3 separate regions of the Homo sapiens genome follow, and regions 2 and 3 are each linked to region 1. Evidence: fine-mapped expression QTL. A gene starts in region 1. Each other region holds a variant in brackets. All regions are shown on one strand. Distances are from middle to middle.

Region 1 (7,715 bases):
CAGACCAGGCCCTCGGTTCGTTCGCAAGAGGTTGTCCCTTCCTTCAGATGGTCCATTTTGAGCTAATAAGTACTATCAGGGTTGAGGTGGAGAGGCGGGGCTGTGGGGAAGGAAATTAGGATAAATTACTGGGGCCCAGTGGCTGAAAGGGCCTCGGGCAAATCCCTGGTGAAGACAGTCTAGCCAGTCCTCCTCTGCTGGGGCATCTGGTATTTTTTTTCCCTTGGGCCTGGGCAGGCTGTCGGTCACCTTCCAGACTGTATAGCCTTTAACTCCTTGTTGCAATGGAATCCTGCTGGCCTTCTGATTTGCCTTTTCCTGCAAAAATCTGCCAAGACACTCTTTCTCAAAGAAAATTTCCTATGTTACTCTACTGTTTAAAAGCCTGGTGTGGCACCCTCTCACCTTTGAGGAAAAATTCCAGCCCCCCAGGCTGCCTGAAAGCTCTGCCTTCAACTGACTCTTGTATACAAATTCAACTTCATCTCTTGATTATTTTTATAATTCTTCTACTGGAACCAGGCTGATCTTTTTAACAACCTGTTAATTTTAATAACCTGTTCATTTATTTATTAATTTATTCTGCAAGCAGATGGGATGATAAGTTCAGTCCAACTGTAGGAATCCATGATTCTACTAGCTATAATATGAGCAATTATTATGTGCAAATACTGTAGGAAATATAGGAAGATAGAACACATTATCCCCATTCTTAAGATTCTTATGACAGTAAATGGAAACACAAAGGCCATTATTGACTAGCGGGAGTAAGATCGCTGTCCTTTAAATCACCTTCTTCATATTTGCATTCTCTGTGTGCTGTTTCTTGGCTCTGGGTTTCTCTCCTGCCTCATCTACACTAATCCTTTTCACTTCTTCATTCAAAACTGTACCTAGATTTATCTGCTCCAGGAAGCATTCCCACTCAAGTCTTGGTCCTGGGTTGAACTGACTCCTCCTCAGAATTGATGGATATAGCTTATCCAGTGTTATTGCACAGTCTTCAACTATTTCACATGGGCCTATGTGTCATGTTAGCTGGCCAGAAAAGAAGCTTTCTGGGGACCCTACCCTCCTGTTTCTCACTTCCCCTCTCTCCCTTTTTTTTTTTTTTTTTTTTTTTTGAGATGGAGTCTTACTTTGTTGCCCAGCCTGGAGTGCAGTGGCAGAATCTCTACTCACTGCAACCTCCGTTTCCCAGGTTCAAACAATTCTCCTGCCTCAGCATCCCTGGTAGCTGGGATTACAGGCGCACACCACCATACCCTGCTAATTTTTGTATTTTTAGTAGAGATGGGGTTTCCCCATGTTGGCCAGGCTGGTCTCGAACTCCTGACCTCAGGTGATCCACGAGCCTTGGCCTCCCAAAGTACTGGGATTACAGGCGTGATCCACCATGCCCAGCACCACCCCCCCACCCCCTGCCTCCTCTTAACCTACTGTTCTGTATATAGCCCAGGGCATGCTACTGAATGAATAGTCACTGTTGAATAGTCACTGTTTCATTGCTTGGTAATTCAGATCAGAAACTCATGGTGTTTCCCCTGGGTTTATCTGCAGTTCAGAAAAGTGACCCTGACTACATGCTTTGATTATGCCCTTTGCTCACAAAAAGATGATTAGTTTTGATTGTGCAGCATTTGGAATGAAGGAATTTAATCTGGAATGAAGGAACTTTAAAAGGTTGGGGGAATATCACATTGGAACTGTTAAATGACATGCAAACAGGATCTGTGAGAATGGTTTTGATTCTGCTCTGTGTCCTGGTAGGAGACACTAAATAGATCAGGCTCACTACCAATTAGCATCATCTTAATCTTGCCTAATAGTGAAGCAAAGTCACCAAGGATTTGGTGGATTTATCAGCTCCTCCCACAATAGTCATCTGAGGCTAACACCTCTTGGAACCTAGATCGAAAGTCCTTTGGTAATGATGTGTCATACATTCTAGTCATCAAAGACACCATTTTCTGGGCCTGAAGTGTTCTGCTGGTTTTTGGAGGAATGAGAATCCAATCTCTCATAAGCCGGATTCAGAAAATAGGTCATCGATGTGAGTTGCAGTTATTTTCCTTCCAGCTTTCTTCTGTGCTTGCTTTAGATTGTTTTTCTGCAAAGGGCAGATGCAGCTGCCCTGGCTGGTGGGCAGTGGAGGGGGATGACAGCCACTCTGGCTTTGGGCCTCTGTCTGACATCACCCAGATTCCTGGGTCCTCTCAGTTAGCATTTGCCTTTTGTCTGGGTGGTTAAATTTCTCTTGAAGGAGTAGGATAAACACCCTCTTGAGTATTGCTTTTTACACAGACACACACCACACACACACACACACACACACACACATACACACAGCATAGTTCATAGTCACTTGATTTGCCACCTGCAGTTTATAATAGAATGGACCTGTGGGATTATAAACCACTTTATTTCTGCACAGAATTTCTCAGCTTGAGGCCAAATTGAAGGGCATTAGTCATCAGTAATTTGCAGATGTTTTTAATGTTTTTCACCCAAGAGAGGTTTCAGGCAGCTAAAGCTAAGATAAATTTCCTCATGCTTTGGTGGGGAAATGAAAAATCTGATCATTTAGTTAATCATTTGTAAGAGCTGTGGGTATGTATTGTTCCTTAGTGACTGCAATATCATGACAGATTTGTTAATTTGGTAACATGACAATGTAAACAATAGTAGATAAATTCCATTATGCCATGATTCTTTTCTTCCTCTCAGTAATTTTGTATATTCAAGGTTTAAAATCCATAGAACATTAGAGATGGAACTTAGAGATCAACCTAGAGATCATTGGATTCCTCTACCAAGCTCTGTCAAATGCCAGTCCTGAGTGTCTCCCCTGGAGCATCAGGATAAATAGCTAATGCATGGGGGGCTTAATAGGTGCAGCCAACCCACCATAGCACATGTTTATCTGTGTAACAAACCTGCACGTCCTGCACATGTAACCTGGAACTTAAAATAAAATAAAATTTAAAGAAAGGAAAAGAGTACATAATCAGTGGAACCATAAAGGTCAGTTCTAGTGGGAAAATTAGGAAAGGCCTCCTAGAAGAGAAGACATTTGAGCTATACTTGAACAGGCCCTATCTAGCAGCATCCAGATAGGTGGTTTGTGAAGAAGCCAGTTCCTACTCTTACGTCTTTACCATGGTTATGGTTTGAATGTCCCCTCCAAAGATCATGTTGAAATTTAATTGCCATTGTGAGAAGAAATGGGACCTTTAAGAGGTGACTAGGTCATGAGGGCTCTGCCCTTATGAATGGATTAATGCTGTTATTGTGGGAGACGGCTCCTAGTAAAAGGATAGGTTCAGTCTCCTTTTTCTCTCTCTTGAGCTCTCACTCTCTTGCCCTGTCTCACTATGTGAGACCTTCCACCATGTTATGATGCAGCAAGAAGGCCCTCACCAGATGTGGCCCCTTGATCTTGGACTTCCCAGCCTCCAGAACCATGAGCCAAATAAACTTCTATTGTTTATAAATGATGCAGTCTGTGGTATTCTGTTACAGCAGCAGAAAATGGACTAACACAACTATTATGCACTTGCTTATGTATTGGTTTGGAATTATTCTCTAATTTACTCACGCTTGTATGGTATGTGTTTCCTTATTCTGTGTATCTCTGGGTGTTATATTTAATATTTGTACAGATTTCCTCTGACATTTCACAGTTCAGGTTTCCGATTTCTTCTTTCTAAAATCTATTCTCTAGATTTGAAAGCATTCTATGATTTGTGATTCATATATACCATACTATAACATCTAGAAAAAATATTCTGAATAGCATACTGAGCAATGGAAATCTTCATCATGAATTTTCTAATGAGTATAAAATGTTGCTGGGCAAGTTTCTATTTAAATCATGCTCGCTAGGCTTGACTAACTGCAGACATTCACAGGGTGCATGCTGCAGAGTGCTTTACTTTCAACAAGGTAAGGCTGTACCTCCGTTAGGGACTAATTCAGGGTATTCAACAAGGGATCAGACTAGACCAATTTGGGGTTGTTAAGGAACTAAAACTAGCTCACGAGAAACTCAAATCAGCTCATGAAAAGAGGGGCTGCTTGGAAGAATGCAGTAGGAAATTTCATGGGTTACAAGGACAGACAGCAAAGCTTAGCAGGCCTCAGAGGGCCAAGATGTAGAATTCACAGTGAACCCACTCACTAATCCTCTTTGTCTCACTCTCTCAAGCATGGTCCTTTCAGTTTCTTATTTCTCTGTTTTCTTTTTCTTCTCAGGATGAGCCTCTGTTTCATATGGTTTCTGCTATCCTCTGACTTCAGCACACATTTGGGTCATAATAGTCTCCTCTGTAGAGATCTCTTATATGTTTTTTTAAAAAATATTTATTTTAAAAAGTAGAATAACATATGCACTAGCAAAAAACATGACTAAAAATGTGTAATAATTTTAAAAAGCATATAAATTTCTCTCTTTTCCAAACTCTCTGATTTTTACCACCTCTCCCTAAAGTTTAAGAGTTTCCTGTGTAGCCTTCTGGAAAAATGTATATAAGGATATACACATACATAGAGACATACACACAAATATACACATAAAATGACTAGAAATGCAAATATTCTTTGTATTTACACAAAAATTGTCCTCTCTATACACTATTCAACACTTTTAAAACAAATCTTAATTGTATATTTGGCATTCTTTCCATATTAATTGGCAGAAAATTTACCTTTTTTCTTTTTGGTGGTTACCTGTGGCTACATTGTATTTAATTTTATGTAACTATTATGATTTATTAGATAATCTCTCCATGATGATGGGCCTCTAGGTTGTATCTGGTTTTCTACTGAAAATAATACTATAGTGAACAATCTTGTATGTCTATCTACTTCAAGTTTAATAGAGTTTTAGCTCTTACATCTGTTTAATGATTAAAGTTAATTTTTATATGTGGTGTAAGGATAAAGATTCTTTTTTTCTTTTTGCATATTGCTCTACAATTGTTTTAGCACTGTTGAAAAGTTTTCCTTTCTAGTATGTAGAAATATAATTGAATTTAAAATATTGACCTTGTTTGTATCCTGTAATTCTGATAAACTCACTAATTAGTTCTAGTAATGTTTTTATAAATTCCATCAGTTTTTTAAATAGATAATCATGTAATCTTCAAATTAAGCCCATTTTACTTCTTCCCTTCTAATCTGGATTTTTAAATTTTCTTTTTCTTGACTTATTATTCTGGCTTCACCACAGTATTCAATATAAATGATGAGAGCAGACATCCTTGGCTTCTGATCTTAAGGTGAAAGCATTCGGTTTTTCACCATTAAGTGTGGTGTTAACTTCAGGTTTTTCCTAGATTCCTGTATCAGATGAAGAAGTTCCTTTCACTTTCTAGTCTGTTGAGAGATTTTTGTTGTTGTTTTTAAATTTTGAATAAATGTTGAATTTTTTGTGAATGCTTTTTCTGCATCGATCGAGATGATGGTTTTTCTTTTATGTTCTGTTAATATAAATCTAAGTGTGCTTTTTTTGATTATATATGTAAAGTAAATGCCTACCAGTAGAATTACAGAGACAAAGGGAATGGGCATTTGGTAGATTTTGACTAATAATTCCTCACAAAGATTGTTTACGCTTTCGCTCATGTTGTCTCAGAGTGCTTATTTCTCTTAACACTATTATCAAACTTCTAAAAATCTTGACAGTGTGATAGGAGACAAATGGTATCTCATTAGTTTGATTTGCCGTTTAAAATTTACTAGTGAGATTTAGCATCTTTTATACATTTAAATTTTTTGAGTCTTTTTCTTTTTTATTGTATATACTCTTGATAGAAAATTAGCTCCTGATACAAACCTTCTTTTCTATTTATTTTTTGGAAAAATGTTAGTACTTACAACAATTCTTTTGGTTGTAGAGACCTTTTTACTTGTATGCAATTATGTTTATCAATTTTTTTCTTAGGGCTTGTGAGTTTTCTATTCTACTTGAAAATATTTCTTGCCTACACCAAGACTATAATGTATTTAGCTATATTTTTTTAAAAAATTTTGAGCCACCATACTCTATTTTGGAGAAAGGAATGAGGTAGCAATCTGGCTTAACTTTTTTTCTGAACAGCCAGCAAGTTAAGCCAGCATAATTTATTGAACAGTATTATTTAGTCCATCTTTTGCCTATTGATTTGTAATGTGATTTTTATCATAAACCCTATTTCTTTGTGTATTTGAGTCTACTTTTGGTTTCTAGTCTAACGATCTGACTACTTATTTCTACCCCTGTGGCATAATGTTTTAATTACTCTAGCAGTATAACATGTTTTAGTGTCTGGTCAAATTATGTTCACTAATTATTCTTTTTTAAAATTTTCATGTTATGTGTTTTTCTTTTTCTGTTTCTTTTTTTTTTTTTTTGAGACTGAGTTTCACTCCATTGCCCAAGGTGGAGTGCAGTGGCGTGATCTCAGCTGTCTGCAACCTACGCCTCCCAGGTTTATGTTATTCTCCTGCCTCAGCCTCCTGAGTAGCTGGGATTACAGGCACCTGCACCACACCCGGCTAAGTTTTCTGTTTTTAGTAGAGACGAGGTTTCACCATGTTGGCCTGGCTGGTCAAACTCCTGACCTCAAGTGATCTGTCTGCCTTGGCCTCCCAAAGTGCTGGGATTACAGGTGTGAGCCACTGTGACCAGCCCTCATGTGTTTAATTTTCTAATGAAGTTTAATATCATTTTGTCAAATTCTTAAAAAAAAACAAAGCGGCTGGGCGCTGTGGCTCATGCCTGTAATCTAGGACTTTGGGAGGCCAAGGCGGGTGGATTGCCTGAGCTCAGGAGTTCAAGACCAGCCTGGGCAACACTGTGAAACCCCGTCTCTACTAAAATACAAAAAAATTAGCTGGGCGTGGTGGCATGCACCTGTAATCCCAGTTACTTGGGAGGCTCAGGCAAGAAAATTGCTTGAACCTGGGAGGCAGAGGTTGCAGTGAGCTGAGATCACACCATTGCACTCCAGCCTGGGCCACAGAGCAAGACTCTGTCTCAAAAAAAAACAATTATTTACTTTCAGACTAAATTTAGGAAGAATTGACATCTTCACAGTAAGGTTTTCTATCCAAGCATAAGGTATATGGTTTTGCATTTTTTTGGTCTCTTTTCATTTAATCCATTGATTTTAAGATTTTACTTTTATACATTCTGCTCTGTTCTCGTTAGGTTTAGCTTTGGGCATTTTACTCTCTTTAATTCCTATTAAAATGCTATTTTCTTTCTGGCTGATTACTTTTAACATATAGAAAAATATATTTTGAAATTGCTTGATTTCTAGATGCTAATTTTATACTCAGCTCCTCAATGAATCAACTTAATTTTTTTCATTGTTAAACTTTGATTTTCCAGGAATAAATCATTCCACTATTTATTTTATATTCACCATCTTCCCAGTGTTTATTTCTATGTTTTTTTGTCTAATCACAGTGGCTAATACTTCAAAAACAATGCAAAATTTTATAGTGTTTGTGAGAGATACTTGTCTTTTTTCTTGATTTTTATTAGCAATGGTTGTAGAAATCCATTATTAACTAAGATGTTGACTTTTGGTTTGAGAGATATGTTTCTGTGCTGTTTAAATGCTAGAAAGGAATTAACCCATTTGAATTTTTTAATGTTCTAAAAATTAGATATTAAAACTTACCAGATTCATTTTGGATTTCCATTTTTAATGGTGTTTCATACTTTG
Region 2 (11,111 bases), 210 kb after region 1:
ATGACATTATAACAACATAGATTATAAAATGGAATACATGGATTCACTGTAGCTTAGAAACTTAGCTCTTCCAAATTCTTACCTTTCCCAGATACTTGTAAAATGTCCATAGATTTCATAGGGAGGAAGTAAATGGAGAGAAATATATATCGTTTTTAAGTTAAGAAGTTGCCTCACTGTGTTGTCTTTTTTGACACCACTTCTGACACCAAATGTTGTATTTTTTCCAGCATGAACCAATTCTCCAACACCAACTGGGTGCCCAACAATTCAGTTCAATTCTGACACTACCTGGAGTTAGCACAGACTCCACAGATTAAGCGATTAGTGCCACAAGACTGTTCCCACTTTAGATGCCAGCTGCAAATGGAGTACCTAGGCTTCTCACACATCTGCCCAGCCGAATACCAGTCCAGGGGTTCTTGTGACTCTCTTTAGGTTTGATAATTCACTAGGAATGACTCAAGGAACTGAGGAAAACACTTTACTTACATTTACCAGTTTATTATGAAGGGTATAACTCAGGAACAGCCAAATAGAAGAGACACATGGGGCAGGGTGTATGGGGGGAGGAAGGGGGCATGGCACACAGAGCTTCCATGCCTTTTCTGGACACATCCCCCTCCCAGCACCTCAATGTGTTCACCAACTCAGAAGCTCTCTGAATCTCCTTGTTCAAGAATTTGTATAACTTAATCTTTAAATCCCCTCTTCTTTCTAGAAGTTGGGAGGTAGGGCTGAAAGTTCCCACACTCTAATCACATGTTTGGTCTTTCTAATGACCAGTCTGAAGCTGTCTAGGGGGCTCACCTTGAACCACCTTCTTAGGAATAAACTGAGGTATGGTTGAAAGGGGCTCCTTGTGAATAACGAAAGATACTCCTACCACTCTTGGAAATCCCAAAGGTTTTAGGAGCTCAGTGCCAGGAACCAGGGACAAAGACCCAATATATAATTTTTATTATACCACATCCACTAATTTCCTTTATACCTAAAGAGCTCCTAGAAATGAATGATAAAAATATCAACAATACAATAAAAAATGGGCAAACAATACGGACAGGTCATGTAAAAGAAAAGCCTCTTAAGCATATGGAAGGAGGCCTCATTCATAATTTTTAAAATGCAGAATAAGGCTGCACTGAGATACCATTTTTTTAAGCTATTAGATTGTCAACAATCTAACATTCTGTTGTTGAGGCTACAGGAGAGCAGGCACTTTCACATATTGGTATAGTCCCTAGGAAAGCAATTTGGTAACGTGTGTCAAATTTACAAATGTATTTACCTTTTGATCCAACATCCCCATTTCTAGGAATTTCTCCTGCAGATGAACCTGCATAAAAATATAATGACTTAAGTATAAGGTTATTCATTGCAATGTTGTTTATAATTACAAGGAAAAAACTCAAATATCCCAATATTGGACAGATTAAACAGATTATGGTACATATGTACAATGGAACAACAAGTAGCTATACAAAAGGTTGAAGAAGGTCTCTATGTACTGAAATAGGAAGATGCCTAAGATCTATCTCTCAGTGAAAAATTAAGGTGTACAGTAGTGGATGTTATATGAAGCATGCAAGTTGCTTCTGTGCTATAAATTCTTCACTTGACGCTCCATTTTCTGTGCCAGTGCATTGTCATCAGCGGAGAGAGTGGCTCTGGGAAGACAGAAAGCGCCCACCTGATTGTTCAGCATTTGACTTTCTTGGGAAAGGTATTGACTAATCTGCTTTACGTATTGTGGCGAGAAGTTCCTACAGAGTAACTGCATATTTGATAAATGATGGAAGTGCTGGGTTTTTTTTATTAAGGCTTACATAAAGACATTCCATCTTTGCTACGTTTGCCTCCTGATAGCGAGGCCTCTTAAGATGTCAGCATGCTATCCTTCCTTCACGTAGGGAGGAGAATAATTCCAGCACAAATTTACTAGATTATCGGCAATTAATTTTCATGTTTTCAATGTAATAGAAACATTCAGCCATTAAGTAGTAAAAATGGTTAAGCACTAGGAACAGGATCAGGGAAAGCCACTATAGTGATTAAAAGGATGTAAAATAGAAGCCTTTGAGCAAAAGTTGAGGGAAATGAAAATTTTCAGCTTGGTGAAATCAATATTGAAAGAATGAATTCAAATAGTCTAGTAGTTACTTACACTCTGAATTAGTGTACTAGGTGACTAAGAAAGAATGTATGGAATTTTTATAGATAAGGTTTATAGACTATTACGATAAATGCCAGAAAAGTTACGGGATCTATTTAAAAATCTTTCTAAACTGGTTAGGTGTTTTATCTGTCAAGGATTTTAAATGAAATATGGCTGGATTTTTAAAACTGCTGTCCTAATCTAGCCAAATCCGATTCATATGCAGATCTGGGGAGTTGCTCATATGAGAAAATGATGCTGGTGGTTGATGCTAACGTCCCCCAAATGGGGCTCTTTGTAAAAAGACCATGTGGATTTTGGTGGGCAAGGGATGGTGCCTGGCAACTTTGCTGGTGTAATGTTTCTGGAGTCTCTTCTTGACCGTTCTCTGTTTGGCACAGGCCAATAATCAGACCTTGAGAGAGAAAATTCTACAAGTCAACTCCCTGGTGGAAGCCTTTGGGAACTCATGCACTGCCATCAATGACAACTCGAGCCGTTTTGGAAAATATCTGGAAATGATGTTTACACCAACTGGAGTTGTGATGGGGGCAAGAATCTCTGAATATCTCCTGGAAAAATCCAGAGTTATAAAACAGGCAGCGTAGGTGCACTACTTTATCACTGTGTTTTTGCCCTGCAGTAAAAACTGGGAGACTTTGGAAATTTTAATGGTTCAGTTTTCATTCTTGTTCTTAACATTCCCCTACCCTCCCCAAGGGCAAAGAATTATTTAAGCAAAGGATCAGTGGTAGTTTTTGACCTAAAAGAAATTAATGGAAAGAGTACAAAGGGCTGGGGTGGGCGTGCTTTAGGGATGGGTATGCTTGTTTCTCCTGAGTTGGTTGTGTCAGGTAGAATTTAGCAGCATTGCAGACATTTTTTAAAACCCTGAGGCCCCTTAAAATTGAACTTGTTGGTTAAAAAAGAAAAAGACACCAAGAATATTTCACATGTTAATTTTTTCCTTAGATTGAGACAGATAGAGAAAACAATTATTCTGTTTTTAGGGAAAGCATTTGGTAATAGAAATCAATAGCACAGACTTTGATCTGGGTTCAAATGCAGGTTCTGATACTCACTGTGTGACATTGGGCATTTCACTAACCTTCTCTGTGCCTCATCTGTGGAATGGAAATGCTACTAGTGCTGACCTCATGGGTTTGTTGTGAGGATTAACATGTTCATTTATATAAAATTACTTAAAAGAATGCCTAGTGTGGTACACCCTATCAGTGTTAGCTACTCTTCCTATGATAATAATATAACCACTGGTGTGGTACATACTATCAGAGTGTTAGCTACTCTTCCTATTATAATAATAACTCTTCATATAATAATAATAGCTATTATTATAATTGTTAATAATAATAGCTATTATTATTATTGTAGGACACCAGAGTTTCTCAGGAGCATGGCTCCGCACTTCCATATTAATGCATTATTGAATCCCTGCTGTTTGCCAGTGCTGTGCTTTGTGTTGGCTTGTAAGAGCAAACTAAATAAAAAAGATTCTTGTATTCACGGGGCTTAGAGTATGCGGTATATGAGGAAGCAGTAGGGGAGGATCACAGGCATTAAACAAGTAAACTTAAATGTAGAACAATTGTAATAAGCACCAGAAAGCAAAGTAGGTGCTATTAAGGTGAAACGAGAGAAGGGAACGACACATAACCTAGTCTAGGGAGAAAGAGGGGCTCCCTGTATATGAGATCACAGGATCACCAGGAGTTAGGCAACGAGGTGGGGACCAGAGCAAGGAGGAAAAGTGGCAAAGATAAGACTGAGACCAAATCATGCAGGGCTTTGGAACCAGGATAAGGATCTCAAACTTTTTTCTAAGGGCAATAGGAAGCCACTGAACGTTTTCAAGCAGGGGAGTCACCATACCCAACTTTCATTTTGAGATGATCACGCTAGCTTCAATGGGGAATGGATTGGGGGAGATGCAAGGATTGTGTTGACATGATTAGGAGGCTGTTGCCAGATTCATGTGAGAGAGAACGCTGGCCTAGACTAAGGCGGTGGCAGTGGAGATGGAGAGAAGATGAGGAGTCTGAGAGATACTGTGCAAGTAGAATTTACAGGAATTGTTCTGGGTTGAAAACCCAAGCATCTTCCTCTATCATGTACTTGCAGTTTCCTCACGCAGTAGGGACTGGCATGAACATTAAACAAATGAAAGACAGAGTCAGAGTCATTTACGCTTCCCTGTGGCTTTTTGATTAATTTTTATGAGGTCCCCTGCTTTTGTCTCCCCAGGTTAGGGTGGTTTTAAAATTTAGGGAGCTACCTCTGACAGAATGGAAAGCATAGTGTTCTGTGTTCAAATGTAAAGTGGTCTTTTACAAAGATAATGTGAGGAGAGTTCTAGGTCACTTAATGTGATATGTTGCTTATTAATGTAAATATTCATATACCTTACTTTCCTCATATGCAACATGGGCATAATAATGTCAACCTCACAAGGCTGTTATGAGAATTAAATGAGATGAAGAGAAGATGGGGCCTGTCCCAGTCCTGTTCATCTAACTGTTGGGATTCACCCCCTTCTGGGCACACTGTAGGGTTCCTGTGTGGCTGGGTGTGGTCATATAACTGGTTCTGGCAAGTGGGCATGTAATGGCAACCCTCCAGAGTCTGGCACAGTGTAAGATGGGGGCTGCTCTGCCAGCCACAGCCCATCAGTGACTGCAGTGAGCACAGCCCCACCGCTGACCTGCCATGGACATGTACTCTGAGCAAGAACTAAACCTTTATTGAGTTAAGCTACTAAGATCTGGGGGTGTTTATTATCATAACAAAGCCTAGCCAATCTTGACAGATAAAGGGATGAAAATGAAACTGAAGTGATGCTAGGGATGGATGTCGGCAGGAAAAGCTTGGAAGAATTGAGAACTAGATGGATCTGTAGAAAAACTAAAGGAATGTAAGACTAAGATGGGCCAGCCAAAGCCTGCACATGTAACAGAGGTTAAAGAACAAGTGACATTCATCTCAGGCCTTTCGGTTCCTGTCTCAGTGAAGGGTGCCACCATCACTAGATGCTCAAGCTAGAAATCTAGGAGGCAGACTCTAGGTTTCTTTCCGTCACCATCCTCATTCAGTCTATTAGGATGTTCTTTTGGTTGTTTCTCCAGAATATATATAATATTTAAGCTTACCGTTATTCTCCATCACCACTACCATTACCCTATCCAAGCTATTATGCTTTCTCACCTGGACCCCCTCACTGGTTTCCCTGTAGCCATCTTGGCTTCTTATAATGACACTCAGAGAACATGAATCCCTTTAGTCCTGTATCCC[T/TG]GGCACCTGGTATAGTGCCTACCGTGACTGGCAATTAATATGTTTATTCATTGAATAGTCACATTTTTCTATTTATATATATCCTATAACATGTTGTATATCTTAAATATACACAATAAAATTTATTTTTAAAAAATAAAAATAAGGGCTGGGCACAGTGGCTCACGCCTGTAATCCCAGCACTTTGGGAGGCCAAGGCAGGAAGATAGCTTGTTTGAGACCAGCCTGTGCAACATAGTGAGACTCTGTCTCTACAAACACAAAAACCTTAGTGGGGGATGGTGATGTGTGCCTATAGTCATGGCTACTTTGGAGGCTGAGGTGCAAGAATTGCTTGAACCCAGAAATTTGAGGCTGCAGTGAGCTATGACCTCACCACTGCACTCCAGCCTGGACAACAGAGTGAGACCCTGTCTCTTAACTAGATTTATTAGTTAAGTGAACAAGTGAGTGAGAAATGGCAAGTAGAGGCATCTAGAATACAGGGCAGGGATAAAGAATGTCACAGAAGGGCTTTGACAGGATAAACAACCAAAGGAAGATGAGGAGACCCAGGAGAGGCTGAACAGAATGGGGGCCATGCCACAAAGGCGGATAAGGGGAGAAGAAAGACGATTTCTTTTCATGGAGCTAGGTTGACCAAAGAAAAGATTTGCCAAAATCCAAGGGTATCTACAGAAGAGACTGTCCTCCTCCAGAGGAAAGAAGGGGATGTGGAGCAGTGCTTTTCAAACTCTGTGCTAAGGGACCACTTTTTAAAAAAAATCTCCAACCCATTTTGAACTAATACCTTTGTAAAATGCAATGCAAATTAATTATCAGAAAAATTATCATGCTCTTGGATGTCATGGCAATGTCACTTGCTATAAAACGTCTAGGCATGTACTTACCAGTTCCTTCTCTTGTTAGAAACTGACAGCAGTCCACAGGCTATGCTCAGAGTAGCACCTATCTGAAAGGACCCTGGCCAGGGTAGCCTAAAAGAGGTGGATGGCAGGAGACCAGACTAATGAATGACATTTTGAGTAGTACTTTTAAGAATACCAGCTTGGGAGAGTGAAAAACCTCAGTTCTGGACCAATTCTGCTCCCTAACCTGCTGTGAGACTTGCAGGCCACTTCCTGTCTAGGGCTCCAGTAAAGTAGAGGATTTGGCTGATGTCTCTAAGCTGGACCTCACTGTCTCTGAAGCAACATGTGGTACAAGCAGAAGGTAGTAGGCGTTTGGGCTGCAATAGAAAGAGCTCAACATATGTAACTTGAGCTGTTTCCTGTAAATGTCCCATTCTCTGAAACCTTTTGCTTGTCGTAAAGTGTGTTTAATAATGCAACATTATGACAATTACTATACTAATCCTATCACTATTCTGTAAGTGGGATTTATAATATTTAATTGCCTGAAAATACAAATTTGCCATGGAATAATCTTTTGTACAGAAAGGAAATGGTGTAAAATACTTGGGATGGGGAAGCCAGAATATATTATTACTAAAGTCTCTTTTTTTTTCAGGAGAGAGAAAAATTTTCATATATTTTACTATATTTATGCTGGTCTTCATCACCAAAAGAAGCTTTCTGATTTCAGACTTCCTGAGGAAAAACCTCCTAGGTAAGTGTCAGGGGGGTTGGTTGTTAATTTTTGATGAATGTACGATTAGCAGTTGACAAACTTGGAAGTAAATGGAGCTGTTTTCCTAACTGGAAACTCACAGTCTATTTAACTAAAGTGCCCAGGGTGAGGTGGCAGGAAGTATCCACCATTTTCATTGTCTAGAAAGTTCAAAAACTCAACTGCACATGGTTTATTTTTTTTCAGCCATTTGCATCATTATTCTACCACAGTATTAGACTATAAAGGAAATGGGCTGGGTGTGGCGGCTCATGCCTGTAATCCCAGTGCTTTGGCAAGCTGAAGTGGGAGGATTACTTGAAGCCTGGAGTTTGAGACCAGCCAGGGCAGCATAGTGAGACTCTGTCTCTACAATTTTTTTTTTAATTAGCTACTCGGGAGGCTGAGGTGGGAGAACTGCTTGAACCTGGGAGGTCGAGGCTGCAGTGAGCCAAGTTCGTGCCACTGCGCTCCAGCCTGGGTGACAGAGCAAGACCCTGTCTCAAAAAAAAAAAAAAAAAAAAATTAGCTGGGTGTGGTGGCATACACCTGTAGTCCAAGCTACTCAGGAGGCTGAGGCAGGAGGATCACTAGAGCCCAGGAGTTCAAGGCTGCAGTGAGCTATGATCACACCACTGCACTTCAGGCTGGGCAACAGAGTGAGGTCCCATCTTTAAACAAACAACAAACAAAAAATGGAAATGCCTGTACTACTTTCCAAGTCAGTGCTCATTCTGTTTGGTCATGCTCCACTTCATTTAGGTACATAGCTGATGAAACTGGAAGGGTGATGCACGACATAACTTCCAAGGAGTCTTACAGAAGACAATTCGAAGCAATTCAGCATTGCTTCAGGATTATAGGGTTCACGGACAAAGTAAGTGATGATCAAGAGAGGAACTCAAGTGACAATATTCTTATATGAATGTGAGTAAAGATGTGGTATTTCTCACTTGGGATAAGACACTTGCTTTCAAATGCCATGTTGGTCATGTTATAAGGTCTTGCTACTCAAAGTGTGGTCCCAGGACCAGAAACATTGTTATCACCTGAGAACTTATTAGAAATGCAGACCCTGAGGTCTATCCAAGAATGACTGCATCAGAATATAATCATTTTAACGAGAAGTCCAGATGAACATCAAACTAGGGGAGCACTGTTTTAAGGACCATGTGCTGATAAATTGTTATCATTGTCATCAATTCATTACACGTGTAATAACAAATACCAAAACAATACTGTGGGTTTTTTTTCTGATTGAGCGTTCTTCCAACCATTAAAGTGAACGGGGGGTAGGAGTACAGGAATATGTAGATGACACCCAAGTCACAGAAATATATTTATGCAAGTAGCTCCTTAGGTAACAAGACAAACTAATTAAAACCCTTTCAACTTTCTTGCAGTTATTTCCTTCTCCAGGGTACACAGTTGCACATTATTAACTATAGCTCTAAGTACTGTACTACTTTTTTTTTTTTTTTTTGAGACAGAATCTTACTCTGTCACCCAGGCTGGAGTGCAGTGGCGGGATCTCAGCTCACTGCAACTTCTGTCTCCTGGCTTCAAGCGATTCTCCTGCTTCAGCCTCCCGAGTAGCTGGGGTTACAGGTGTGTGCCACCACACCTGACTAATTTTTGTATTTTTAGTAGAGACGGGGTTTCACCATGTTGGCCAAGCTGGTCTTGAACTCCTGACCTCAAGTGATCCACCTGCCTCAGCCTCCCAAAGTGCTGGGATTACAGGCATAAGCCACCATGCCTGGCCAATACTGTACTACCCTTATCATCCTAGATACAAGCTGTCTGTATTAAATATATGCTAGGGGTGACAGACAATATTTATAACCCTAGGCTCAAATATTACTCTGTGATACATTATGTCATAGTTTCTGGGCTTCATGCCATCAATTTTGCAAAATATATAGATTCTTTTGCTTTTCCAACAAAGGGGGTGAATTATTAGGAGGTAGGTGAGAGTGTTAAATCTTAAGGGATTAGATTACAAGACACTCCAGTTACCCTGGGATGGCCACTCCAGATAAAGGATTACTTCTGTGTAATGCAGTATGATTGGCTAGCCCTTCCCTCCCCTGCATGGTTGATTTTAATCATAATAGTACCTTTCTTTTTTTTCTGTCTAGCCAGCTGTTAATTTTCTCTGTCAGCCTCCCGCAGACTTTAAACTGACAGACAATGGAAAATCCCAAAGGTCAGATAAAAATATAAATATATTTTCCTTGGCTTCTTAGAGGGGGGCAATTAAACAGGTTCTAGCATTGTTAAAGGACCTTTGTGGTTATTAACTTAAAGAACAGGTTTTTTAAATCAAAGATGCATCCCCAGAAGAGTTAAAGCATGGTAGGAATGGCAGTGGAGCAATTTAAAGTCACTTGTGTCATGCCAAAGTACGCAGGGGCACATGTCCTTAAAAGGGTACAGGAACCATAGAGAAGTCAAGGTTAATAATCATTAACAGAGTTAATATTTTGTTTTCTTTGAGTACAAATATAGTTATAGAATACTGTGAAGAGACTGATCCTAGCTGAACCCATTTATGCCTAGTGTTCCATTATTGGAATGCTAAACATGTGGGAGTTATTTATACCCTACTGCTCAAGGTCATCACCAAGGTCTGATTGCAAAAATTCAAAACATTGCAACCTCAGGCTTAGGTGGGTTAAAAGAAAGTATATAATGGTGCCATTCTAATAATAGCAATGTACTGCTAATAATAATAAAACAGATGCTATCTGTTTCAGGATAAACAACGTTGAAAACTGTTAAAATCTGTTTTAGTACAACAACACTAAAGCATTAAAAACAGAAGAATTAAGTATGTTAAGTATATGTCCTTGAAGTAAGCCATCCCTAGCCCCTCTGGGAAAAAAGGTACAATAGAAATAAATGAATGACTGTATGAATAAACATGAAAAGAAAAAAATGTAAAAGATGGTGAACATTTTTCATTTGTGCCTGGTCTGTACTGTTAAATGAATAACCAGAATGTAATGGTGTTATGTGTGTATATTTTCACCATGTCCCACATTAATTCATACAGGAAATAAACCAATTTATATAAGCTGCAACCTTAGAAATGAAAGGAAGAAGCAGGATCTTCTCTCTCCAACTCTGAATTCTGTGGTTCTATCTCTGCTGACAACCTGTTTTGCTGAGTTAACTCAGTTCACTTCATGTTTATAAACTCAAAAAGTAGTGTGACTAAATTCAGAAAGATCCAGTTGAAGGTAGTCAGGAAACAGATGCCAAATGCTGATGTAACAGAACTTTCTCTTAAGTTTTTCTGGCAGACATTTCTAGATAAAGCTTAAATGAACTGATCAAGTCAATCAAAATTATGGTTCTTCTCCTTTCTTACAATGTCACTAGTTCCCTGCAGGAATCCCTTTAGTTTTTCTCAAACCCTTACAGCAAAATTATGAGTAGCAAACTTTAGTGTGGAGTCAGGAGCATGAATTTTAATTCTGGGACAACAGCCAAAGTATCTGAAAGAACACTTGACCCTGAGTTTATTGTAAAGAAATTTCCCTGGTGGAGGAGTCTTCCACTAATAATGATGATGACTCCTTGTGGAGGGCTGGGGGATTATACCTAAGACCTTATTGTGAAGATTGTGCTTTTCAACTCTTATTTCTGGAGCCAAACCATACTATTTTTGTTTAAAATTATATTTGTCTTCCTGGTAGGAATTAACATATTACATAAATTGGGTTTTAGATATGTTTCTATTTAATGCTACATGAAAACTTTTTGGGCAGATGATCTATGTGATGGTCAAGATTGGACGTACACTATAGATCCCTGTTGGAGAGGTTAGGGAGAAGCCTTTGAGATCGGCGCAAAATTTCTTCCCTTTCTTCAAAATAGATTATGAATTGAGAGAGTACTGCTCTGAAGAGAGATTGAAGGATTATATGTGAAAATATGACTCGGGAGTCTTGAGGATTTCTAATGTCTTGATGACAGACAATAGGATACCATTGACTTTTAAGATGACAAAAGTTGTGAGCCTCTGCAAAGGAGA
Region 3 (11,111 bases), 30 kb after region 1:
TTTCTATTTTTCTTGGTTTGGAGCAAAATGCTCATTAAATTCTAGATGCATTCAGCTACCACATTTCCTGAATGCTGAGGGCGTAGGGAGGAACTGCAGGAATGAAAACACACTTCTGTATTTGAATCTGGTGGCTGGCAGAGTGGGCGGGAATAAAGGGCTGATATGTCAACCCTCAGGGCTGGGGTGGGAGGCTTGGTTGCCTTCTTACAATTCTAAAGGGATTATTTTACTTGGTGCATTTAAATATAATTCTTTGTTATGCTTTTAAAATGTTCAACCCATTTCACTGAACATTTATTCTGATTAGACAATTGTCAGTGTACACCTGATTTCTTTTTTTTATATCCAAGTGCCCAGTCTTTTTTCTATAACCCATAGGCTGCCCTTGAAAACCTTGCTGGTGGGCTTATCAACTTCACAGGACAGCTTCCTTTAAAAGTGTCCTGAGCAGTTTAATTATATGTTTCTGTGAGTTCTGGGAAGTCAGACAGCTCTTATACTCTGACATTTAGTGAACAAAAAGCACTGGCTGGGTAAGATTCCTTTGTTGTTTTTAAATCCATAGCTGAGTTTTGATCCTGCTGACAAATAGCTACTCTTAATCCCTTCATAAGTTCTAGAGTTACAAATAAAGTTTATAAGTTGGCTACCTATATAAAATATTGCTGAAGAGGCCTTTGTTGCAAAAATGGCCACACTTAAAGTAGGGCAGGGAGAGAGACCAAAATGAGGTGTCAGGGGAAAATTCCAGGGTTGCATTTTCTGGGATCATCACCCAGCATTTAATTTAAAATTTCTCTCAGTAGAATTTTAATAGCATGCTTGCAATGCAAGAAAGCCTGTGCCTCCCTGAGATGTGAGCCAGGGTGGGGAGTGGTCCTGATGAAGGTTCTGTTGTGCTTTGCATCCCTATTACTGCCTTTCCTTTAGAGGAGCAAAGACTATTGATATTTTCCTAATTCTCACAGTTTCCCTAGACTCTGTCTCTTCTTCACCTTTCACATGTGGCTGGTCAGAAATTCCTGTCATTTCTATCTCAAAAAAAGTCTCCCAAATCTCTCCCTCCCTTTTATCCTCATGACTTCTTGACCCTGCCTCTCTTGATTACGTCAATATCTTCCAATGGATACTCCAGCTCCTAGTGTTGTCTTCTGTCCATCCTCCATCTGCTGACCAAATCATTTTTCTAGAATGCCAGTCTGAACATTGAGACCTCCTGCCTAAAATCTGTTAATAGTTTCCCTTTTTTATCTAGTGATATATCATGGTATTATAATATACATAGAATATTATATGGGTAGTATACAGGTATATATTATATGCGTAGTATATGGATATATATTATATGGGTAGTATACATAGTATATTATAATAAAGCCCATACTCCTTAGCAGGGCATACCTGTCATTCCCTGTCATTGGCCTTCCTCCTCCATCTCCCTGCCCCAGGATTCTGGCATCCTTTGTCCCAACAGTAGTAGAGTATTTAGAACTCATCACACACATGTACCCTCACATGCACATTCCCCCTCATTCTTTCATGCCCCCTACATTTGCACAAGATGTCCCCATGTTCCTTTTCACAGAATCTTCTTTCCCTTCATGTCCACCTGCCCCAAACCCATTTGTCCTTCAAACTCATTGTAAATGTTACATCCTCTGGGAAGTTTTCCTAGACTGTCCCCTCTTTGCCCTCCCTCAGCAGAGTTCACCCTTCCTTCTTTGGTGCCACCACACTTCCTTAGGCACAGCTCTGCTTCCACATTCCACACTATAATTACTCGTATGTCCATTACTGGGCAGTGACCTCTTTGAGGCTAGAGATTGTGTCATATTCATGATTGAGTAATAGGTAATAAACCAGACAGTCATAAACTATTGATAACAAAGAGGTGCCTTTCTTCTCAATAACTGAACTAAACTGGGTTCTTGAGCCCCCAGCCTGACTAAAGGAGGCAACTGATTCTAACCCATTTTGTTAAACTTAAGTCCAGTTGAGTGACTTTGTGGAGTGGCATATTCCAGTATTTATATCCAATTTTCACTGTCCAGTTCAAGGCTTAGTCATTTGGGTACGTACTCAGTTTTTTAGGGCCTCTTCTCTCCCTCTTCCCTCTCCCTTTTCCCTGGGTGGCATCTGGATCTGGGTACAAGTAGATGCTTACATAATGCCATGGTAGTGAGGGCAGAGGCTTCGGAACTGTATTGTAACCACAAAGTCCTTGTGATAATAAAACTGTATTTTCTCCCTTTGGTATCTTTGATGTTCCTGGTCTCTGACACTCCCTCCTATCATGAGGTCCTCATGTCCTTTGTCCTTATTTAAACTCTAACCTTATCCCTGTCCCCAAATAGAGCATGAAGTTCTGAGTGTCTTACAAGTTGTGAGCAGATTGTAGAAAACTGTTATTGTAATCTCAAGCATGGTCTACCTCACCATGCCATACTTTCATTTCACTTGACACAGACACCCCTTGTTATCAAGAGGTCTCCTCTTAGATTTCCAAATGGGAAGAGGATCATAAGAAACTGAAATTTCTATTATCATTACCCGCTTACACAGACACCCCCCTCCCAGAGGGAGCATCCTCATTCTAATCTTGTCCTCTTAATCTCCCCTAACTCCAGTTAGGGGAAAACAGTCAGATCTCCCTCAGAGGCCTATCTAAGGGTTGCTGGCCAAAGGGGCCATCATCCGAGGCTCCAGTTGCATGACCATTTGGAGTTTGATGTCATGAAGGTGAGAAAGAGACAAACTGGGTTATTAGAAAACATGTATTAAAACAAAATGGGGGCAGGGGGTGGGGATAGCTCAAAAGTCTTGAGGCCTTTTATGTTTGCACAGGAAGAGGGAGGCCAAAAGCCCAACTGGTAAAAAACTTTTACCTTTCTGCCATCGTGTCAGGCTTTTGGGTTCCCTTCCCCTGAGCGCAATCCTAAGCCAACCAGTCTAAGGTTTGGGAAATTAACTGTTCCTAGTTTGGAGGATGCATCTGAGGGGAGTGTCCCATAGTACAGAGAGACAATTACCTATCAGTGAAGAGAGGAAGAGAAAGAAAAAAAAAAAGGCTTTTTTTTTTCTCAAAGGATTAGTCTAAAGTGCATCCCAGGGGTTCAGGATGCACTCAAAAGGGGTACAGACTGAAGATGAATGGCTACTCATCTAGAAAGAGGAGAGCAAGGCATCCCTGGTTCCCTTCTCTTCCTAGCAAATACCTGGGGTACATGAGGGAGAGAAAGTGAGTCATTCCTCTTTCTTTTCCTCCATCCTTGTATCCCCAAGTTCCAGTGACTGTGACAGGGTACTGCCCATGGAGTCAAAGCGGCTTTCACCCTTGTTAAAAGGGAGTCTGGGGGTGGGAGTATCCACTCTTACCCACGTATGCCCTATCTCCTCTGCTGTCAGTAGCCTTTGAATTCTCTAGACCTCATTTATGCCACGGGTAGTATCATGACCTTTATCCATGAAATGGGAAGCCTGGCTTAACTGGCAGGAAACCAGTCATGCTCACCTGTGCTATGCCTTTTAACTTCCATTATCATCTACCTCTGGATCCCTCAAATCCAGTTTTCTTTCCTAGGGCTTTGACCTGAAGCTTGGAATTGAGTTTGGGACAAAAATGTGCCTCGGAGAAGGGGTGTTGCATGGACTCCTTATCATAAGCCAAATGCTAAGGTGAAGCTGTGGAATTGAGTCCTCCTCCAACAAGGGAGAGAAAAGGATGTCTTGTGACATGCCCAGATAACTGGTGGCTATAGTTATGCTTGCTAAGATGTAGGTGCATGGGGCTTGGCTTTGGTTAGCTCCCTTGGTCTTACTTTCCCCAGAAGAAAACTCTGGGTGATGGGCACCCTATTTATATCCTATTTATTCCCATCACCTGGCAGTATTTGCAGGATAATTGCTCAGAACTAGAATTTTGATCCAGGTTTTTACATCACCTATCCCTTTTATTCTTTCTAAGCTGCAGCTGGAGATTCCTGGTTGGTTCACAGGAACAAGCAGGGTTAGTCTAAAGGGTAGGCAAAAACTTAAAAACAACTAATGAGTCTAGAATTTAATGACAAATGTATGGTAAGTTTTAAAACATAATTTCTCTATCTCCAGTCCCTCATTTTTTTGTTAAAAAAAAATCAGGACTGAGTTGCTGGCAAAATAGACTTTAGTCTTACACTTGACCTGATTATTTGCATAAAGTGCAGCAAGAATAATTGTTTCTACATAGGCCTTTTAGATTGGCTTTGATGGAACTCTGTTCCTCAAGGAATTTCGGATAAGACCTTTTAAAGCTGAGCACAGCCATGGGTTTGTATCCTCAAATACCTGTGAGTTGGGTGATCCTCTCCTTTTAAGGTCCCAAGATAAACTTAGAGCTCCTGGTCCTGTCATAAAGTAACATTTTTTACTTACTACAGGTCAGGAACCCTATACAGGTACTGCGTAGATAAGGCCAGTTTTCCCAAGGGGCTTTTAGCAGCTCTGCAAGTCGAGCTTGACTCCTTAAAGGGAAGCATACCCTTCCAGTCAAAGCCTTGGTAAAACAGTTTCTCCAATTGCATCATACTGCAAAAGAAAATGGATTCTTATGGCACTGATGCAAACAACTACATTGCTGTAAGTTAAGAATACTCACAACTAGTTTCCAAATTCTGGGGAAGCCAGGCAGAGAGGGACATATATGCTCCAAATTTTGTTCACAGGAGTATACCTTAATCATTAAAGGCCATAAATAGTTCAAAATAAGTTTCCTTGACTCTGAAAAACAAAACAAGGGTCAGCAATATTCCAAGCAAAAGTCAAAAAGATAGCTTCAGTTTTCTATGAGTTCGGTCCATTTAGTTAACTCTTGTTTGATATTCATGAACATTTCAGCTCTTTATGAGTCCTGTACATTTTTCCTTTTTTCCAATGTCACAATCTCCAAAGTTATCAGAAACCTGTATTTGAGAGCACCTGTCAGAGTCCTGTGGCACCTGTCAGAGTCTGGTTTATTATAAACTATCTTTTGAAAAGGACCAAAACAAGACAACAATTGTTGGGAATAAAAAAATTGCCCAGGGTATTTACAGTTAGAAACACAATTGACAAAGAAGTTTGGTTATCTCTCTTCTTCTCAAAGAAGTCTGGTTTACAATAACATAACAACCTTAATTATGATGATAGCATATACATTAGACATTAGAATTTTAAAAATCCCATACAATTTTGGAACACATATTAATATTATTCATCAAAATATAACCTAAATAATATTGAACACCATTTTGGCAATTCCATGTAACTAAACATGTCAAATGATCCCTTTTACCTCTCTTTTGGATACTCCAGGGCCCTCTGTAGCATCCAAAAGCTAGGTGTCAGGAAAGGCAATTTTGAAACTGAAGTTTGATTTTGGGAAGCCTATTAAATATGTTAGTGGTTTAAAACACTGAAATAGAATTCCAGATTACCAAAAGTTATTTATTTTGCCAAACGATGACTCAGAAATTTAAAAAAGCAAAAACCTTTTATAACCCTTTACAAATTTTGCTAAAGAGCAGATTAGTGCCTTAAGAGTACCTTGTTGTGCTTTTATTTCAATGCTCAATTTACAAAAAAACTATATAATACCCTTTTGAATTTAGTCAATCTGTTCACACACTGAATTTTTGCAATATTAATTTTTACAGTCCTTCCATCATTTGTTTAAACTGTCAGCTTTATTTTATCTAATTCAAAACAGTCCTTTAAACCTAGGCAAGAATTTACATTTCCATGCCTTCTTGTAATCTTTTACTAAAAACACATCTTACTGTTCCTACATACCTTGCGTGTAAATCTATTTCCAGTAGTTTCAATTACATGTTATAATGGTAACCCCTAGCAATTTTAAGTTTAATGTAAAACCTGGTAAGTTGTTTTAATTATGTGCTAGGTTCAGGCAAGGTTTGACTCCTTCCAACAT[A/G]ATTAAGGGTGTGGTTAATTCCTTATGTCCCCAGGCCTTACTAATTGTCAAGCTGGCAAGTTGAAAAGTTCTTAAAAACCAAAAAGGCAGTTTATAACCTTAAAACATTTAGCAAACCTAGTATCTGACCTGCATAATTTAGTTCACCTGTGTATATTTGACAACATCTGCATTTTACCAATAATCTTTAAGGCTGTTTTTATTTCTCAAAGATTAAAGTCACATGAACTAAAACGTACCACAGCTTTAATCTTCCCTTTAAAAAAAATTTGATCCAAGCACTTGTCTTCCATTAGACCAATTAATTAGAGCTTTTTTATAGACATCACACACACAACACATATGTAACTACACAGACAGGCAGAAGAAAACCAGCAGCCATAAGATTTTCATTTGCCCATCTCCTATTTGGATTATTGGCCTCTGGGTGGGGCCCTTTAAGAGACAGGGCTAGGAAAACATGCAGCTTTTAAGGCCTAATAAACAGGCATGACTGGGAGGCAAAATCAGAGTTTGAGAGGGATCTATCCACTTTTAATTCCTGGGGTTCCATGAGAAAAACAGGTTTCTTCCCAAAACGGAGTGGTGCCTTGTCTGTTTTTCCCAAGGAGTCCCATGGCCCCAGGAGTTATCTTAGGGCCTGCCATGCATGCACTGAGAGTGGCAAGCCAAATGGAGAAAAATAATTTAGTCAACTGAGGAAAAGCCTTTTTCCAGCAAAGCAAGATACCCAAAGAGGAAAAAGCATAAAGGCCTTTTAAATAAACCATAACTTGGACATCCACTTTTAATTAAACTGAGCACTCTCTAAGAAAATCCTTTTAACTCCCTTATTACCCGATTTTAGCCATGCCAAGCAGCTAGTATTTCTGGCTTTCAAACTTTACTAACGTTAACCTCGCAGGTGAAACCAACAAGCCTCACTTAAGGTTATTATTTCACTGTGAGCGTATGCGGTATTTTCGAAGGGGATAAGGGTAAGCAATTCTTACAAAATTTAGAACCTTTAGAGGTAACCCAGTGAAAGGAAGATGTAAGAAAAAGGCTAAGCGTTGTTCATGGTGGGGAAGAGAATCAGCAAATGGCAGAAGTCACACAGATATTAACTGGAAAGTACTCATTTCCTAAGCCAGGATTGAACCTAGGCATCATTGTGAAATGAAAAACAAAAAGCATTGCCACATGGTTACAGGTCACAATCCCAAGCACACAAAACAAGATGGAGGCCTGCAGCAAAGTTTGCTGTTGGCCATACAGGAAGTCATGCAAAGCACACCAGATTGGCTACAGCTTAAGACCAACCTCACAAATCCTTTTTCATAATTAAAACTTTACAGAAAATATAAACCCTGATAGTTGGGGTCCTGGCCTGGTAAAATGTTTTCTTAAAAAAAAAAAAAAAAGCCAGCTGGGTTCTGTGGCTCAGGCCTGTAATCCCAGCACCTTGGGAGGCCGAGGCTGGCAGATCACCTGAGGTCGGGAGTTCAAGACCAGCCTGACCAACATGGAGAAACCCTGTCTCTACTAAAAATACAAAATTAGCTGGGTGTGGTGGCGCATACCTGTAATCCCAGCTACTCTGGAGGCTGAGGCAGGAGAATCGCTTGGACCCAGGGGGCGGAGTTTGTGGTGAGCCAAGATGGCGCCACTGCACTCCAGCCTGGGCAAAAACAGTGAAACTCCCTCTCAAAAAAAAAAAAAAAAAAGTCTGGGGGAAGAATCTCTTATTTTTATGCCAGTGAGTTTCTCCAACAGGGAGAGAAACTTGGGAGCTGGGGAGCCACCAGTTTGCCCGTCCAGCCGACATTCCTGACCTCCAGGAATGACATTTTAATATGGGGGGGCATAATTTCTCTACCCTCAGAAGAAGTCGGAGGACAAAAAGGCTTAGAAGCCAAAGGAAAAAGACTTTTTGGTTTGCATGTCACTCACCTTTCCTTAAGCCCTACGCCTGGATGCCAAAAATGTTGCAGAACTTTCTCCTTAGTTCCACCAAAACGGGGTTTTTGTCACTTGACCAGGAAAGATTAGATTGGTAGACACATAAAAGGGTGAGGAGCGGAATTTATTGGGAGAAAAGGAAAAAAAAGAAAGAACTCAGCAAAGTGAGATGGAGTCCTGCTAACAGGCCCTCTACCTCACCGATTGATTCCCAGGTCACCACACGAGCTAAAGAGAGCAGGCTACTTCCCTGCATAAGGCGTGAATTCCCCGTGGCTCCACCCATTTCCCCCAGTGCTCGTGTCTGGCTCCAGTCTGCTGTGGGGATGCCCATACAAGCCTAGGGCACAATTGTTGCCTAATCTGCACAAAGCATCTGATGTAAACACTTGCGGGGCAGGTCAGAGATTCTCTGGGGACCCCCTTTTTATCTGCCTAGGCGTTTGGCTATCTCAGTAGCTTTTAGAATCTGGTGAAAGCTCTGCATTTTCTCCCCAGTAAACTGCAAGATGCATATACAGCATGCTGCCTACAATTTCAGGGTATTTCCATGCTCTGCTCAAAACAGTTAAGAACCTTTGACTTAGGATGGCTTGTAGCAAACCCAAACCTGCACGTTGACTTCTGCAATTAGTAAGAGTCATCTTTGGAAATCCTTAAGTTGATGAAAAAGTATTGTAGCAGGACAAGCCGCAGACAAAACTCCTCAGACACCGAGTTAAAGAAGGAAGTGGTTTATTCCGCCGGGAGCATCGGGCAAGACTCCTGTCTCAAGAGCCGAGCTCTCTGAGTGAGCAATTCCTGTCCCTTTTAAGGGCTCACAACTCTAAGGGGGTCCGCGTGAGAGAGTCGTGATCGATTGACCAAGCAGGGGGTACGTGACAGGGGCTGCATGCACCGGTGGTCAGAGTGAAACAGAACAGACCGGGAAGTTTCACAGTGTCTTTTCTATACAATATCTGGAATCTATAGATAACATATCCGGTTAGGTCAGGGGTCAATCTTTAACTACCAGGCTTAGGTCAGGCAGGCCCAGGCCTGGTTTCGGGTCTGGTTCCTAGGCACCGGGCTACCTGCCTTTTGTTTTGCTTTTCTTTTCTGAGTATAAAACAATATAAAACAATATGAGAGGGTCTGTCTCTCTTCTCTCAGTATAACTGCTTTATGTGCTCAAACTTCAGTTAAGATACAATATATGACAAAGAACAAATATGCAAAATAAAATTAGTGTTTTTAATTACAGACAAAAAAGAGAGAAGAGCATAAAGTTGCTGAGAGCCTAAAATTGAACATTAAAAAGTTAATAAATGCACTTATGATGCAACTTCACTCCATAAACTTTATCTGCAATGGCAGTTCTAGGAAGAACTGCTGGTTGGGCTTCTGATACGTGCTAGCACTGGAGAAATCACTGAAATTTATTCTCTCTCAGGTATCAAGGGCATCCATCTTGCCTCTCCCGGTTTTTCCTTATCCTCAAAATGCACATTAAAAACATAGACAATATTCATATAAAGTGAAAAATATCCAATAAGTTGCCATTATTATTTATATGCTTTTTCTTTCCAAAAATATTCTTTGTAAAAAATTTCTAATTGTGCTTTATATTTTATTTTTATTTTATATTTGGCAATTAAAAAGTTAGCATTTTGAACATGCACTTTCACTCATAAATCATCACCTCAAATAAAAAATACATACGCAAAGAATTAGATTAGACTGGGTAATGGAAATGTGAAGTCTGAGTATTCCAAGCTGGAGTTTTGTAATCTGCAAATTTACTACATTGAATCAGTATCAGTCGGCTTTTCTTAATTTCTTTTTCTTTTCTTTTTCACATGTGGTCTCCTGCTCTCCCTGTGTCTGGCACCTCTTCTTGCAGCTGTGTAATGGGGGCTCAGTCACTGAGCTTGTCAAAGGTCTACTCAGATGTGGCCAGCGGTTGGATGAAGCAATGATCTCATACATCTTGTACGGGGCCCTCTTGGTAAGAACATCTATCAAATGGGGTATGACAGCAGATGGGATGGTTTGTTCATTGCTTGGGTCCTTATTGCATATTAACAATGGGGAAACTGCCCTATGATATGCAAGGATTACTAACAGCAGGAAGGTGTAGCCAAATGTAGACTTTCATGAGACTTTTCAATAGTAGGGTAATTGCTTTAAAATAAGCATGTAAATTTCCCCTTTCTCTTTCCTGTTGTTTGGTGGTGGTGGGATGCCATGCAGGGCCTTCAGCATTTGCACAACAACCGAATCATCCACCGTGATGTGAAGGGGAATAACATTCTTCTGACAACAGAAGGAGGAGTTAAGCTCGTTGACTTTGGTAATGACTGCTTGTCGTTTGTTTTCTTGACGTGTGCAGTTTAGCCAAAGGGGACAATTTATTGCAATCTCAGAAGACTGGGGCTTCTCTGCTACACCATAGGCTGAGGGACTTTTCCAGTCAAACACAAGCTGGAGGGGGTGGGGGCTCCAGATGGATCACCCTAGGAGATGCTGTTTGCTAATCTAGTTTCAGCTTTAGAAGCAATTTTATAAAGATTGAAAATAAAAGTGTTTCAAAAGAAGAACTTGATGGAAAAACTTTTCGGTTTTCTGCTAAGAATTTCACATCTCAGGGCAATTGTCTATAATTTACATTTTGTCATTTCTTCTTTTGCATATGAAAAGAGAAAGCAGTTTGGTCTTTCAAATGACTTTCACTAGCCTTAGGCATACTTATTCCCAGGGAGCAGAAGGTAAAATAGTCCTCTGGGCCTGGGAGCTAACATCCTTTTAAATTGTGTTTACTGCTGCTACATGTGAGGCTGGTTGAACTGGAAACATTAACGGGAAATGGAAGTGTGAGAGGAAATGCAGGGCAATATCACCTAAGGCCAGAGAACTATTAAATATCCCCTTGTAATATCATATGTTGATATTCACAAAACAACAAACCATTTGGTTTTTTTTTTAAGTTTATTGAAGGTTTAGTCTTCTAAATGAGTTCAGCAATAGTACTTCAGAGTCATTGTTACAAATAATGAGAAAACATTTAGTGAAACACTTTAAACGTGTTTTTTTAAAAGAATATTTATTGTCTTATTGCTAAGAAAGAGTTCAGTGTAAACATGTATCAGTTTATCACTTGCTCAGAAGAAATTACTTAAAAATAAATGAGGTTGGTTTAGACGTACTAGTCTATTTTTACTGAAACACAAGCAAAGAAAAATAG

The links. PIP is the estimated chance that this variant, and not a neighbour inherited with it, causes the effect. A credible set is the group of variants that fine-mapping cannot tell apart.
Region 2: its variant is the best candidate, but not a certain one, in a credible set for the expression of MYO3B in tibial artery (GTEx, PIP 0.73).
Region 3: its variant is the best candidate, but not a certain one, in a credible set for the expression of MYO3B in thyroid (GTEx, PIP 0.71).

Annotation. Positions count from the first base shown.
Region 1 is chr2:170,176,237-170,183,951 of GRCh38, forward strand. MYO3B (myosin IIIB) reads left to right here and starts at 1,911. Exons shown (of 35, transcript NM_138995.5): 1 at 1,911-2,053. The coding sequence starts at 2,052. RefSeq lists an enhancer at 4,093-4,322.
Region 2 is chr2:170,384,550-170,395,660 of GRCh38, forward strand. MYO3B (myosin IIIB) reads left to right here. Exons shown (of 35, transcript NM_138995.5): 13 at 1,640-1,723; 14 at 2,557-2,759; 15 at 6,971-7,069; 16 at 7,832-7,946. Among named protein-coding and RNA genes, the nearest start is that of MYO3B-AS1, 39 kb to the left of the region's middle. The variant T/TG (reference allele first, on the strand shown) is at 5,462.
Region 3 is chr2:170,204,609-170,215,719 of GRCh38, forward strand. It overlaps MYO3B (myosin IIIB), which reads left to right. Exons shown (of 35, transcript NM_138995.5): 4 at 9,771-9,875; 5 at 10,121-10,220. Among named protein-coding and RNA genes, the nearest start is that of MYO3B, 32 kb to the left of the region's middle. RefSeq lists enhancers at 9,505-10,196, 10,197-10,888. The variant A/G (reference allele first, on the strand shown) is at 5,948.